Linked DNA regions of Homo sapiens: region 2 is linked to region 1. The links come from fine-mapping of genetic effects on plasma protein levels. A gene starts in region 1. The other region holds a variant in brackets. All regions are shown on one strand. Distances are between the middles of the regions.

Region 1 (4,374 bases):
TCCGTCTCAAAAAAAAAAAAAAAAAAAAATATTTTTGTTGGCTGGGCGTGGTGACTCACGCCTATAATCCCAGCACTTTGGGAGACTAGGGTGGGCGGATCACGAGGTCAGGAGATTGAGACCATCCTGGCTAACACGGTGAAACTCTGTCTCTACTAAAAATACAAAAGTTAGCTGGGCGTTGGCCGGGCGCAGTTGCTTAACACCTGTAATCCCAGCACTTTGGGAGGCCGAGGCAGGTGGAACACGAGGTCAGGAGTTTGAGATCAGCCTGGGCAACACGGTGAAACCCCGTCTCTACTAAAAATACAAAAGTAGCCGGGCATGGTGGCCCATGCCTGTAATCCCAGCTACTCGGGAGGCTGAGGCAGGAGAATCGCTTGAACCTGGGAGGCGGAGGATGCGGTGAGCTGAGATCGCGCCATTGCACTCCAGCCTGGGCAACAAGAGTAAATCTCCATCTCACCAGAAAAAAAAAAAAATTTGTCACTTTGGAGCAAGCAAAGACTCCTTAGAGAAGATACCAAAAAAGAGGAGTAAATATAAAATTAAAACTTGATAAATTGAACTTAATCAAAATAAAAAGCTAACGTTCATTAAAGACACTATTAAAATGAAAAGGGAACACATGCTGAGAGGAAGTATTGAAACCACCTTTGCAAAATTATAACTAAGGAAATTATGACAGTGAAAGATAACAGACTTAACCAATTCCATCTTGTTTCTAACCTTCAAACGGTCCTTGTCCATTACTGGCCATAGGCCAAACAAGTCTTGGGAAGGAATTTAATTTATAGTTTAAATAATAGCCCTTCCCCAAAACTAGACTGTTCTTGTAAAATGAATGAAAGGCCACCAGCCACCAAGTTAGAATGAGAGGGGCTGGAAGTCTAAATATTATCAGCCATTATTCTGGAGGTCATAAGATAAGATTTGCAACTTCCCCAAGATATCAACACTACTGTGAACCTAGGGTTGGCCTTTTTTTTTTTTTTAAATGGAGTCTCGTTCTGTAGCCCAGGTTAGTGTACAGAGGGACAATCTCGGCTCACTGCAACCTCCACCTCCCAGGTTCAAGCCATTCTCCTGCCTCAGCCTCCCAAGTAGCTGGGATTACAGCCATGTGCCACCACGCCTGGCTAATTTTGTATTTTTAGTAGAGACGGGGTTTTGCATGTTGGCCACGCTGGTCTCCAACTCCTGACCTCAAGTGATCGCCTGCTTTGGCCTTTCAATGTGCTGGGATTCCAGGCCTGAGCCACCGCGTCAGCCTAGGATTTGCCTTTTAAGAAGTCTTTTCCGCCGGGCGCGGTGGCTCACGCCTGGAATCCCAGCACTTTGGGAGACTGAGGTGGGCGGATCACGAGGTCAGGAGATCGAGACCATGCTGGCCAACATGATGAAACCCCGTCTGTACTAAAAATACAAAAATTAGCCGGGCGTGGTGGTGAGCGCCTGTAATTCCAGCTACTCGGGAGGCTGAGGCAGGAAAATCGCTCGAACCCGGGAGGCGGAGGTTGTAGTTAGCCAAGATCGCGCCACTGCACTCCAGCCTGGGCAACAAGGGCGAGATTCCGTCTCAAAAAAAAAAAAAAGTCTTTTCAGGTTTTTGCATTTCTGACAACCGGATGGCCCCACCTGGACCTGCCAACCAGTTGTGTGGCCTCTACCCAGGGACTGACTCAGCATAAGCGGACAGCTTCGACTCCCTGTGATTTCATCCCTAGCTGACCAGTCAGCACTTCTGACTCACTGGCCCCCTACCCACCAAATTATTCTTAAATACTGGGATCCCCGAGTTTTGGGGAGACTGATTTGAGGAATAAAACTCTGGTCTCCCGAACAATCGGCTCTGTGTGAATTATGCTTTCTCTATTGCAATTCCCCTGTCTTGACAATAGACTCTGTCCCGGCAGCTGGCAAGGCGAACCCATGGGGCGGTTACAGTGTCTGCAACGCAGACACAAGCGACAGAGACTTGATCAGAATATACAAGGAACTCTGCAAGTCAGCGATGGTAAGAAGCAGGGCAGCTGGGCCTCCTACGCCTGCCTCGCCGTTCGGTCCCCCGGACACCTCTGGGCTTAGGACTCAGGGGAACAGATTCCCAGAAGCAGGTTCCCCGCCGCGTCCGGCGCCCGGGCTCTGCAGCCGCCCCCTGCTCTGCCTCCTGCACCCGCAGGGCGTCCCCCGCCGCTCCCTCCCCTGCTTCCTGCAGCGGCCCCCGACCCCAGTCCTGGCCCCACCATGGATCCTGCATCGCCGGGTTCGGCCCTGGCGGGTTCAGCCCCGCAGAGTCGGCACCCGGGCCAGGTCCATCTCCTCCAGCCCTCCCGGTGCGTCCCGCGGGGCAGGAAGGAGGCGAGGCCCAGCCGCCCCGTGTCGTGCAGGTGTTTTCCCGGGCCCGTCCGCGGCGGCTGCTGAGGACCTGGGGAGACCCAGCCTGTAGGATCCGCAGCTGCGGTGCGCGGCCGGCAGTGGCGCTCGGGCTTCGTCCCCGGGGGCGGGGCTTCGTCCAGGCGCGCAGGGACCAGCGGGCCTCGCCCTCCCGCGCCGCTTTCCGATTGGCAGCCGCCCGCGGGGCATTGTGGGCCGTCCGCGCGCCCGTCCCGTCGCCGCCGCCGCCGCCGCAGACCCCTCGGTCTTGCTATGTCGAGCTCACCCGTGAAGCGTCAGAGGATGGAGTCCGCGCTGGACCAGCTCAAGCAGTTCACCACCGTGGTGGCCGACACGGGCGACTTCCACGGTGAGGACGGCGCGGAGCCCGGGCGCGGCGCAAGCGCCCTCCAGAGGCCCCGGCGCCCCGATTTCCCCGGGTCTCCCGTTCCGGGACGCGGACCGGGTGGCGGTGCCCCGGGCGGCTCGTTCCGGGAGGAATGAGCGCAGGTGCCGGATGTTGGGGCCAGGGACAGCCGTGAGGGGAGCGGGGCCCGGGTCGGCCGTGAGAGGCGCAGGGCCAGCGGCGACCGTGAGGGGAACGGGGCCCGGGTCGGCCGTGAGGGAGCAGGGCCGGGGGCAGCCGTGAGGAGCTGGGGTCAGCCGTGAGGGGCTCGGTGCTGGGGTCAGCGGTGCGGGCGGTACTGACGGGTCCTTGCGAGCCGTGGGGCACGAAGCCGGAGCCCCAGCCTCGCCCTCCGCCCAGGGTGGGGTCGGCTGCGCCCTCAGACCCCGCACCCGGGACGGGCTGTGGGCAGCCCGCGGGAGCCCCTCTGTGCACCTTCATGGGTCGAGGCAGCTTTCAGAGCCTTTGAGTTCAGGAGAGATTCAGGGTAGAGCTTCGAGCTGACTTCCACGTGGCCAGTTTGTGGTCAGCGAGATGCAATTTTGTTGGGCTGATGTCTGCAGAGCGGGGACATCAGCTAGCTCTGACCAGAAGCTGCCAGTGCTGCCATCGCCCTTGAGCCCTGCGGTGCCCAGTGGGACAACTCCGTGGGCGGCAGGTGCCCGGCCTGCTGGACAGCCACCGCCAGACGCACCGGGTGGGTAAAAGCCGGTGCCCATGAAAGCACAGGGTTGGTACACTGTTAAATACTGGATTTTCCTGGGCTTGAGTTGTTTACATTGGAGAGAACTTGGAAAATACAAAGAAGGATTATTTATTAATACTTAGCTCTTCTGTCCTCTGCAGTGCAGAGTAGACGAGCCTTGTGTCTATGTTTTGTTGAGAACAAGTAATATTTTTTAAGAAAATCATGAAACGCTTCATGGATGAATGCTGCGAGCACCTAATACGGAAGTGACTTCCTCTCTTTTCTGCTTTCTCATGGTGACTTGAGAAACAGGCTTTAATTCCTCTTTGGTAACTGAGTAAGGGCATTGTTTATCTAGCAGAGCCTAGAGAGTGAATTGGCATGTTTGGCTGCTTAACCATAAAATATGGGGATTCAGTGACTGGCTTGGGGTGCCACAGTCTGCTCCGGACCCCTCTTTGGGAGATCCAAAGCTAGAGCTGTGAATCCCTCACACACACAGCCCCCCCGTTGTAGTCCAGACCTCTCTTCATAAGAAAGAAAGCTCCAGAAAAGGGGCTACACATTTTTCTGCTGCTCAGTTTTTTCCCTTCTTAGCACTGAGAATAATTTGCAGTTTGCCTGGTGGACAGAGCGCTCATCTGTATTGTTCCTTACTGGCCCTCACCAGTTAGGGCAGAGCTGGTGCGGAGTGTCAGGTCCATTACACTTGGCAGTGCAGGGCCAATAAAGATGGATTTTCCTAAACCCACACCCACAGGAGGGCTGGGGAGTCCTGGGTTTCTGGTTTTGTTTTGTATTGTTTTTTAAGAAAACTTCTGGCCCAGCGAGGTGGCTCACGCCTGTAATCCCAGCACTTTGGGAGGTTGAGGCAGGTGGATCACGAGGTCAGGAGTTCGAGACC
Region 2 (4,374 bases), 35 kb before region 1:
GTTTGGTGAGTGAGGTTTGAGAACGGGCTGGACGTCACAGGGGAGAAATGGGCACTGCATCCAGGTGGGGGACAGCTGCTCCTGCCCCACAGCTGTGCCTGGTCTGGCCCAGGGGATCTCCGGGTGCCCAGGGAGGCCTCTGGACCCTAATCAACCTTCCGAAAGCTCCTGGCCACTGGATCCCCTCCCCCACACCCGTAAGGGGAGAGGCCTTTACTAATAATTCAGGGAGCATCAATATTGATTCCGCTGCACTCATTGCTGTAACCTGATCACAGCGAGGTTCAGGCAGGATAAGCCGCCAGGTGTCTGCTCCAGGAGGGGGGCCTGGCCAGCCCCCACCTCCCCCCACTCTGCCCTTCCCCAGAGACGACCCTGCCCTCTCGCTAGCTAGATGCACCCTTCACTTATGTCTTTGGACAAGGTGCCTAGTCTGGAAAGCGAGAAGACCTGGGAGGGCAGGGAGAGTGAAGCTGGCAGCTCTCAGAGTGGGAAGAAGCCGGGCTGGGACCCCCTTCCTGTCCCCTCACCCTCCGGGACAGAAACCCCCCGGGCACAGGCTGCTGGTCCCCACTCCACTCAGAGCAAGCCCATCGCCTTCTCCGAGCTGCGTCCTTCTCCAAGGGGGCTTCCCTGGAGGGAGGGAGGGGGCTTCCTGCAGGTCCTGATTTCACACCCACATCCTTCCTGGTGGCCAAGAGGTCCACGGAGCAGCCTCCCTCCGCTTGACTCCACCTTCCCTTGTGGGTCCAGTCCCAACTGGACGGGAGGCTGTGGGTCCTGCCCGTCGGGGGAGTGACTGGTGTCTCCCGGTTCAGAGCAGAGGAAGAAGTATTCCAACTCCAACGTCATCATGCACGAGACCTCGCAGTACCACGTCCAGGTAAGGCCCCGCCCCCAGGTAGGCTCCGCCCCCAGGGAGCACCCTCAGGACATGGCTGTCCTCAGGTTCTCGTCTCCACAAAAAATAAAATAATTAGACGGGCATGGTGGTGCCGGCCTGTAGGCCCTGCTACTGGGGAGGCTGAGGCGAGGGGGTCACTTGAGCCCGGGAGGCGGAGGCTGTAGTGAGCCAAGATCGCACCACTGCACTCCAGCCTGGGCACCTGGGTGACAGAGCTAGACCCTGTCTCAAAACGAAAGAGAGAAAGAGAGAAAGAGAGAAAGGGAGGAAGGGAGGAAGGGAGGAAAGCTCCAGGGAGAGTGGTCAGCCCAGCTTCTGACACCCACGGGGCCGGGGGAGGCCAGAGCCAGAACTGCCCACACTGTCCCGGGCTCAGCCACGGGGCCGGGGAAAGCGCCCCTCTGGTTCCAGTCCTGGGAACTCGCGGCCTGGGGGGTGAGGCAGCCCAGGGTGTGCCGGGAAAACACTGTGGCTGCTGCCCAGCCCTGGATGGGAAGAGCCCCTGGAGGAGATGATCATCCTGGCCCCAAAACGAGGAACTGTATCGGGAGGGAGCAGGCA[G/T]AACAAAGACGCCCTTGATGGGGGATTCAGGGAGGCCCGGGCTGCTTCTCAGGGCTCAGACGGGGCTGCCTGCACGCGCCGGACCAGCCGCCAGCCCTGAGGGCTTTTCTGTTCTCCTAGGTCAGTTTCATTGACACGGAGAACTCAGGAAATGTTTTTTTGGGGGGTTTTGTGTGCGTGTGTGCGTGTGTGCGTGCGTGCGTGTGTGTGTGTGTGTGTGTGTCTTTTTTTCTTCCTTTCTTTCTCTCTCTCTCTGTCTCTCTCTTTTCTTTTCTTTCTTTCATTTTGAGACAGGGTCTAGCTCTGTCACCCAGGTGCCCAGGCTGGAGTGCAGTGGTGCGATCTTGGCTCACTACAGCCTCCGCCTCCTGGACTCAAGTGATCCCCTCACCTCAGCCTCCCCAGTAGCTGGGCCTACAGGCTGGCCCCACCATGCCCATCTAATTATTTTATTTTTTTGTGGAGATGGAAGTCTCCCTATGTTGCCCAGGCTGGTCTCAAACTCCTAGGCTCAAGCAATCCTCCCCCCTCCTAGCCAGGCCTGGTAGTGTGAGCTCGTAGTCCAGCTACTTGGGAGGCTCAGGCAGGAGGATCCCACCACGGCCCTCCAGCAGCCTGGGCAACAGAGTCTTAGGCCAGGCGCGGTGGCTCACGCCTGTAATCCCAGCACTTTGGGAGGCTGAGGTGAGTGGATCATCTGAGGTTAGGAGTTTGAGACCAGCCTGACCAACATGGCAAAACCTCATGTCTACTGAAAATACAAAATTAGCCAGGCGTCGTGGTGCATACCTATAATCCCAGCTACTCGGGAGGCTGAGGCAGGAGAATCACTGGAACCCAGGAGGCGGAGGTTGCAGTGAGCCGAGATCACACCACTGCACTCCAGCATGGGCAACAGAGCGAGACTCCATCTCAAAAAAGAGAAAAAAAAAAGGGACCAGGCGCGGTTGTTCATACCTGTAATCCCAGCACTTTGGGAGGCCGAGGCGGGTGGATCACCTGACGTCAGGAGTTCGAGACCAGCCTGACCAACATGGTGAAACCCCATCTCTACTAAAACTACAAAACTTAGCTGGACGTGGTGGTGGGAGCCTGTAGTCCCAGCTACTTGGGAAGCTGAGACAGGAGAATCACTAGAACCCGGGAAATGGAGGTTGCAGTGAGCCGGGATTGCGCCACTGCACTCCAGCCTGGGGGACAGGGCGAGACTCCATCTCAAAAGGAAAAAAAAAAAGGCCCCTGCGCCTGGGTACGAGCTGGGCTCCCGGTTGTGGTCCAAGCCTGGGTGCGAGCTGGGCTCCCGGTTGTGGTCCAAGCCTGGGTGCGAGCTGGGCTCCCGGTTGTCGTCCAAGCCTGGGTGCGAGCTGGGCTCCCGGTTGTCGTCCAAGCCTGGGTGCGAGCTGGGCTCCCGGTTGTCGTCCAAGCCTGGGTGCGAGCTGGGCTTCCGGTTGTGGTCCAAGCCTACAGGACTAGGAAAAGGAGGGAGGGTGAGGGAGCCTGGAGCTGGGTCCTCCTGCAGGACCAGTCCTTTCTGCCACAAACAGCCCTGGCTGGGGGCCCAAAATGCCCCCTGGTTCCCCCTTGCTGTCCTCCACACCTGCAGAGGTGAGACAGGTCACTACTCTTTGAGCCTCAGTTTCCTCGTCTGTACAATGGGTCCAAAGAGCCATCAGGAGTCCCTGAGCTCTTGAATCGGGCTGTTTTGGGTGACCAGGGCCCTCCCAGCAGCCTGGGCAGCTAGACCCTGCATACAGCCAGGCTGGTGACTTCGGCCAGCTCAGTGTCCAGGGGAAGGCACAGAGCAGTGGCCGAGTTCACTTTAGTCCCCTCTTCCTGGGCAGCTCCACCACCTTTCTCAGGGACTCTGCCCTCTTCGGGAGGAGCCTGGGGCCTCTCAGCCTGGCTCCTGGACTTTGGCCCCAGCTGGCCTGGCCTGGCCCCCAGCCAGCAGGAGCCTCGTCTGCCCAGAGGCCAACAGAGTGAGGAGTGGAGGGTGGGTGGGGCTTTCCTGCCTCTCCCCGATGAGGACACTGGGGACCAGAGAGAGGGTGAGAGTCTGGTGGGAAGTCTCTCCAGCCAGGTGGGGGCCGGATCAGATTGGCCCTGACAGTGGGTGGGGGGCACCTGAGCCCGGGTCCATGGTTTGCTTTTTTCTAAGTTATCACACAGTAAAAGCCATGTGTACGTGGGGGTGTGGTTCTGTTGCCACCATAGTCGACCCATCAGCCCCATCACTCCAAACCTGTGAATCCCCGACCTTGGTGGCTACCCCCAACCTCTGGCAACACCTGCCTGCCTTCATCACCACAGTTTCTGTTTGTTTGTGTGTTTGAGACGGAGTCTCGCTCTGTCACCCAGGCTGGAGTGCAATGGCGCGATCTCAGCTCACTGCAACCTCTGCCTCCCAGGTTCAAACCATTCTCCTGCCTCAGCCTCCTGAGTAGCTGGGACTACAGGCGCCCGCCACCACGCCTGGCTAAATTTTTTTTTCTCTGAGACAGAGTCTCACCCTGTCACCTAGGCTGGAGTGCGGTGGCGTGATCTTGGTTCACTGCAACCTCCGCCTCAAGGGTTCAAGTGATTCTCCTGCCTCAGCCTCCCCAGTACCTGGGATTACAGGCACGCACCACCACACCCAGCTAATTTTTTATATCTTTAGCAGAGATGGGGTTTCACCATGTTGGCCAGGCTGGTCTTGAACTCCTGACCTCAATTGATCCACCCACCTCAGCCTCCCAAAGTGGTGGGATTACAGGCGTGAGCCACCGTGCCTGGCCTAATTTTTGTATTTTTAGTACAGATGGGGTTTCACCATGTTGGCCAGGCTGGTCCCCAACGCCTGACCTCAAGTGATCCACCTGTTTTCACTATGTTGGCCAGGCTGGTCCCCAGTGCCTGACCTCAGGTGA

Alleles and levels. Positions count from the first base shown, and alleles are read on the strand shown. Strength reflects both the effect of a copy and how common the allele is.
For the plasma level of the protein whose gene starts at base 2,632 in region 1, T is the high allele of the variant in region 2 and G is the other (weak association).

What was found. PIP is the chance, under the fine-mapping model, that this variant and not a neighbour inherited with it causes the effect. Protein levels are from antibody-based Olink assays in UK Biobank. Linkage for the fine-mapping came from a reference panel and not from the study's own genotypes, which makes the PIPs less certain.
Region 2: its variant is fine-mapped to the plasma level of the TALDO1 protein (UK Biobank, PIP above 0.99).

What each region holds. Positions count from the first base shown.
Region 1 is chr11:744,833-749,206 of GRCh38, forward strand. TALDO1 (transaldolase 1) reads left to right here and starts at 2,632. Exons shown (of 8, transcript NM_006755.2): 1 at 2,632-2,746. The coding sequence starts at 2,650. It overlaps LOC105376509 (a long non-coding RNA gene), which reads left to right. Exons shown (of 3, transcript XR_930962.3): 3 at 1,917-2,130. RefSeq lists enhancers at 1,616-2,264, 1,903-1,962, 2,265-2,913 and silencers at 2,093-2,692, 2,753-3,042, 3,143-3,232.
Region 2 is chr11:709,604-713,977 of GRCh38, forward strand. It overlaps EPS8L2 (EPS8 signaling adaptor L2), which reads left to right. Exons shown (of 21, transcript NM_022772.4): 3 at 1-5; 4 at 819-883. Among named protein-coding and RNA genes, the nearest start is that of EPS8L2, 5.6 kb to the left of the region's middle. RefSeq lists an enhancer at 106-1,033. The variant G/T (reference allele first, on the strand shown) is at 1,466.